Linked DNA regions of Homo sapiens: region 2 is linked to region 1. Evidence: fine-mapped expression QTL. A gene starts in region 1. The other region holds a variant in brackets. All regions are shown on one strand. Distances are between the middles of the regions.

Evidence for each region.
Region 2: its variant is fine-mapped to the expression of SPEF2 in anterior cingulate cortex (GTEx, PIP above 0.99).

Annotation. Positions count from the first base shown.
Region 1 is chr5:35,616,582-35,619,502 of GRCh38, reverse strand. SPEF2 (sperm flagellar 2) reads right to left here and starts at 1,640. Exons shown (of 37, transcript NM_024867.4): 1 at 1,448-1,640. The coding sequence starts at 1,505. RefSeq lists an enhancer at 790-1,597.
Region 2 is chr5:35,706,504-35,709,424 of GRCh38, reverse strand. SPEF2 (sperm flagellar 2) reads right to left here. Exons shown (of 37, transcript NM_024867.4): 19 at 304-477. Among named protein-coding and RNA genes, the nearest start is that of SPEF2, 90 kb to the right of the region's middle. The variant C/T (reference allele first, on the strand shown) is at 1,483.

The sequences.
Region 1 (2,921 bases):
CACTATGTTGGCCAGGCTGGTCTCGAACTCCTGACCTCATGATCTGCCCACCTCGGCCTCCCAAAGGGCTGGCATTACAGGCGTGAGCCACCGCACCCGGCCCGGGTGTGGTTTTTACTAATAAAATAAATGAACTAAATTAAACTAAGCAATATGTAACTGCTTTTCTTTTAGAAGAGTACAACTTAAGGGCATGATATTTTATTTTGGCTCCTATGGTGAGACAGGAATAAGAAACAATAAATGCTAAATATTGTCCTCAGTCCATCATATTTTAGCAAATAAACAGTTGGAGACACAATGGGATAATCGTAGAATACCAGGAAAGAATTTATTGCAGTTCACAGGGAGTGTGTAGATGGTTATTTGACAAAGAAAGAGTCTGAGGTTTATGCCTCAAGAAATGCAACAGGAGATGCTCCGTGCTAAAGATCCTCATGCTGAGAGTATTAATAACTACTTTGCACCCACAGAAACACTACCGATCTAGCAACTTCTGTAGATAAGCTAAGGTTGAACTGGCACCACTGCCTCTCTGGTAGCAAGCTGGTGTTAAGCAAGTTCTTCTGGGAAAATGGACTGAAATGACTTGCCCTGAAAACCTCTTCCCTTAAGCAAAAAAAGAAAAAAAGACAAACAAAACCAACTGAAAAATGAACTCCTGAAGAATTACAGGGCAGTCAAGGAAGCTGCCAGCATGTAAAATTGTCTCTGTGGTTGTCAGACTTGGAAACTTTGGGTGGCAACTGCATGGTTAGGATAAAATTAGGTTGGTGAATAAGGTCAGCTTTGGGCAAGAGCCAATAGTGACCAGAAATAGCTAGTTTGTGATTTGGGGCTTAAAATTTACTAAAATTTGTAAATGTTAACATATTCTACATTAACTTATTTTTCACCCACCCTCCCCTGCTGGTCAGTTAAGTATGGAAAGCATTATTAGGTCCATTTTATAGAGAAGGAAACACATTCAGAGAAGGTATTGTAACTTGTCCAGTGGCTTCATATTTCATCGACTAGCCACCACACCATGCTTCTGCTTCTGGTGATGTGAAGGAGGCATCGTTGGGGTCAGACTACAAAGTCCAGCAAAGTTCCCTCTCCACAGAAGCAAAGGAGACCTTCCTAAACCCTCTGATTGCCTAGAACCACATCACAAAGTCAGAATGCCTGCGGGTTGGGCCCACCGTGACAAGGGTAACTCGAGAGCGGCAGAGTGGGGACGTGACAAGGCCTTGCCCTGGCTGGGGTGAGCTGTAGGGAGGTGGCGGGACGGACCTGGGGCACCGCCGAGCCGAGTTGCTCACTGTGGGATGCTGCCGGCTACGCAGGTGCCCCACCTGTGCAGCTCGCGCCCTGCCCGCCACCTTCCCTGAGTGCGCTGCGCTGCGCTGCAGGCTCTGCGCCCCGCTAGCCCCTCAGACGCTCGCCCCTGGCCGTGGTCACTCACTCACGGTCCGGGACACCTTCAACTCCTTGTTGAGCCACTGGCACAGGATCTCCGACATGGTTCAGCCGGTGCCTCAGACCGCAGGCGGGGGCTTAGAAACTCGCCAGGAACCAAGCCTGCCAGCCCGCGTCCTCCTGTAGCCAAGGGCAACCCTTTGCTATGGAAGCGTATCCAGGCTGGAACTAGGCGAAAGGCCTTAGAGAAGAGGGGACGCTAGGGCTCAGCCGCAGAGGACAGAAAATCGTGTTTCGCCACCTGCTGGCGGGTAAGACCTGAGCGTGCGCCAGCGCAGGAGGAAGCCGTTGGGGGCCTGTGAGAGAAGTTAGGGAGCAGTGGGTGTGGGGAGAGGCGAGGCGGGAACACTTAGGGACACAGCAGGAGCTTCTTAGGTGAGCAGAAAGTAAAACCAGAGTCTCCGCAGGGCTCCGTGGCTCACGCAAATAATCCTACCACTTTGTGGAGGGGGTGGCGCTCGACTGAGCCTGGGAGTTCAAGACCAGCCTGGGCAAGGTAGCAGAAACCGTTTTTTTTTCTGTAAGAAATTAGGCGGCCGTGGTGGCGTGCGCCTGTGGTCCCACCAGCTCAGGATGCTGACGTGGAAGGATCAACCCAGGAGGCGGAGTTTACAGTGAACCGAGATCGAGCCACTGCACTCCAGCCTGGGCAACAAAATGAGACTCTGTCTCAAAAAAGAAGAAGAAAGAAGAAAGAATAACAAGAAGGAGAAGGAGAGGGAGAGGAAGAGGAGGAGGAGAAGAGGAAGAACAGGAGGAAAAGAAGAAAGAGAAGGAGAAGAAGGAGAACAAGGAGAAGGAGGAGAACAAGGAGAGATCAAAGAAGAGGAAGAAGAAGAAAAAAGAAGAGGAAGAAAAAGAAGAAGGGTATTTGGGGTATCCATCACCTTGAGTATTTATCATTTATATACGTTGGTAACATTTCAAATCTTCTCTTCTAGCTATTTTGAAATATACAATGTATCATTGCTAACTATAGTCACCCCAGTTGCTAGCTAACATTAGACCCTATTTCTTCCATCTAACTATAAGTTTGTACCCATTCACCAACCTCTCTTCATTTCCCCTTCCCACCCTCACATCCTTTCCAGTCTCTGGTACTCATAATTTTGTTCTCTATCTCCAGGGGATCAACTTTTTTAGCTACCACATATGAGTAAAACATGCAGTATTTGTCTTTCTGTTGCCTGGCCTATTTCATTGAACATAATGGCCTCCAGTTCATCCATGTTGCTGCAAATGACCTGTTTTCATTCTTTTCCATGGACAAATGGTATTCCGTTATGTATATATACCATTCTTTCTTTTTCCATTTGTTCGCTGATGGACACTTAGATTTATTCCATATCTTGGCTATTTTGAATAGTTCTGTGATAAACATGTGAGTGCAGGTATCCCTTTGATATACTGACTTCTTTTCCTTTGGATAGATACACTGTAGTGGAACTGCTGGATTTTAT
Region 2 (2,921 bases), 90 kb before region 1:
GATCTGCCTGAAGTTACCTGTTACTCTGTGCCTTTTCCTCTTCTCGTCTGTGGTCTTACTCTAATCAGTAGACCTAGGTGTGATGACTCCATGTCTCCTCCTACATGGCAAAGAAGTTGGGCTTTGTAACAACTACGCTTTTAGCTACTCCGAGGGCTTTTCCACTTCCATCTGAGTGTAAAGCCTTGTTTCATATGATTGAAGTTGCCCAAAGTCTGAATGTAGATAGACTATAATTTATAATTCTTTACTGAGTAAAAATAAGAAACTGAAAACAGGATTATAAATCATTCTGTCAATCACCTGATTGAGGTTTTCCTTTTGCAGTAGGAGTTTTTGAAGCCACATGGCTTTGATGAATTTCCTTCTCTTTTTCTGGTTCAGGAGGAGGAGCAGGAGGAGGTGTAGGAAGTGGAAGCTCAGCCAGGGAAGCTGCTGCTTTTTTCTCAGCTTCCTTTTCTTCTAATTTCTTCTCAACTTCAAAAGGATGATAAGAATTGACCTTCATTAGAGACTCTAGAAATCTACTATTTCACTTGAACTAAGAGAAATCTAAATTAATATAAAACAATCTTACGTATTTAAAGCTAATTCATGCTTTAGGGCTTTCCCTTAAATCATCTAGTCCTTAAAGCTAAGATTTCAAGTCTTCTCTCCCTTGTCAGAAATATGGTTGCCCTTGCCTTTTGATGGCAGTGGTGGTAATGTTGATGGGTAGTGGTGGTGATGGTGATGGAGGTAGAGGTGGTGATGGTGCTGGTGGTAGTGGTGGTGGAGGTGCTGGTAGAGGTGATGGTGGTGGAGGTAGAGGTGGTGAAGTCTGTGGTGGGGATGGTGGTAGTGATGGTGGTGGTGTGGTAGTGGTGATGGTAGGAGTGGTGATGGTGGTGGTTGGCATGGGGGTGATGAGGAATATATGTGTATTTGTGTGTACGGAGCAGGTATAAGGGGTTAGCAAGTGGTGTCAAATGTAAAAGTGATAATCTAGAAGTAGCTAATAAAGATGAGGAGAAAAATAAAAGATTGTTTGAAAACGTCCAGTGGGAAAGCAAAGTGAACAAGTGTAAAAAGACGGTAAAGGGCAATGTAATACAAGAGGTGGGGTGAGGAGGAAATGGAAGGGGAAAGAAATGTGTATCACTAACTTTAAAAAGTGAATACAAAGCACTTAGAATACTGCACAGTACATACATCTTCAATTAAGCCTTAGCAATTCATTCATTCCTGCAACAACCATTTATTGAACCTGAATTATGCCTTGAAGAAAAGGAAGGATGACAAGAATAAAGTAAAACTACTACTATTTCTAATGATAATAATTATAATAATATTGCAAACAATAGTTCTGATTGCTGGAGATACAACAGTAAAACAAAACAGAAAAATCAATGGCCTTATGAAGCTTACGTTCTAGTGGTAGGAAACAAACCATAAATATGATGAATAAGTTAATTTATACAAGAGTTAAGATGGTGATAAGTG[C/T]TATGGAAAAAAAATAGAACAGAGTAAGGGAGATCAAAGTGTTGTGGGCAGCTTCTTAAGTTTTAGATAGACTGCCAGGGTGAGTATGCCCAACCATAAGGTGACATCTGAGCAAAGACATGAAGCAAGCCAGGGAGTGAGCCTTGTGTATTTCTGGTGAAAGAGTGTTCCAGTCAGGGGAGATGGTTAGCCCAGATGCCTGGAGGGATGGAGCATGCCTGACTGGAGTCTTTCTAGGCTCCCATCATTGTGATGACCCTTTGCCTTGCATGATGCAGTTTCACCTTTCCTGGCACACCCTCCCTGACTGCCCAGTCTTTCCATCCCTTCACACTGCAGAGGCCCACAGCTCTACTCAATGTACCACTGGCGACGATTGCCTATGTTCTTGCATGACTATTTCTCTTTACATGTGCTTACTCCACCCTTAGATTACTCTTTTCAATTCAGCAAGCTAGGAGGCTTCATTCTATTAGATGTTCTTTTGAAGTGGAAATTAGGGGTTTTAGTTCTGACTTTTAAAGTTATTCATAATTATTGCTTTAAACATCCAAGAATTAAGACAAGTAGAAAAGGGAATTGCCTGTTAAGTCTCTTTAAGTCCTATCTCCTTCCCCATCATCAAGTATATATATGCTGCCAGACTCTTCTGTGCAGATGTATTTAATACATAATTATGTACACTTTCCTTAAAAGAGACTATTTCATATGTAACCTGCTTTTCCCTACTTAACAGTATATTGTGGTCAGAATATAGAAGTACCACATTCTTTTAGTTTTTTAACTTAGTCGGAAAGTTTAATACAGAGCACTGGGCTAGGTTAATGTTTATTGTTTTAATTATTAAACATTTGTTAATTACCTGTTTGAAATATAAATCTTAAGTGATAACTGAGTCTATTAATGTAGTCAGTGAATATTAGAATGCAAACTCTTTAGGAAAATGTTGAAGTTGAGTCTAATAGTTGGCAAAAACAAACTGATTCTAACCCGTAGCTTCAAGCCTTCATGAGTTAGAATTGGTTTGTTTTTGCTTCCCAACCAAGACTCTGTAAGATTGCTATTCTGTCAAATGACATGTTAAGCCTCTTAAAATAGTATATGATTATTTTTTGTTTGAAAGGTTCATGCTGGTAGTTTTTGGAGTAGGCATTTAGATGTAGGAGTTTGTCTTTCTAAGTATGAGCTCCTGGATTTCCATGGTGATTGTGGTTTATGTCTATGGGCAATTTTAATGTTAGTTAACTGTTACATTATGGGAGTTAGGTCACAAATTTAGCGACAGGAGACAGTATGCTATCAAGGCAACTTTAGAATCCTTTTGACACTATTAACTTTGACCATTTTTTATTATACTAAGAAACAGTAGTTGCCAATATAATTTGGGGTAATTGATAAACAAAAAAGAAAGATTTATTTTTCAAATCTTGTCTCAAGGC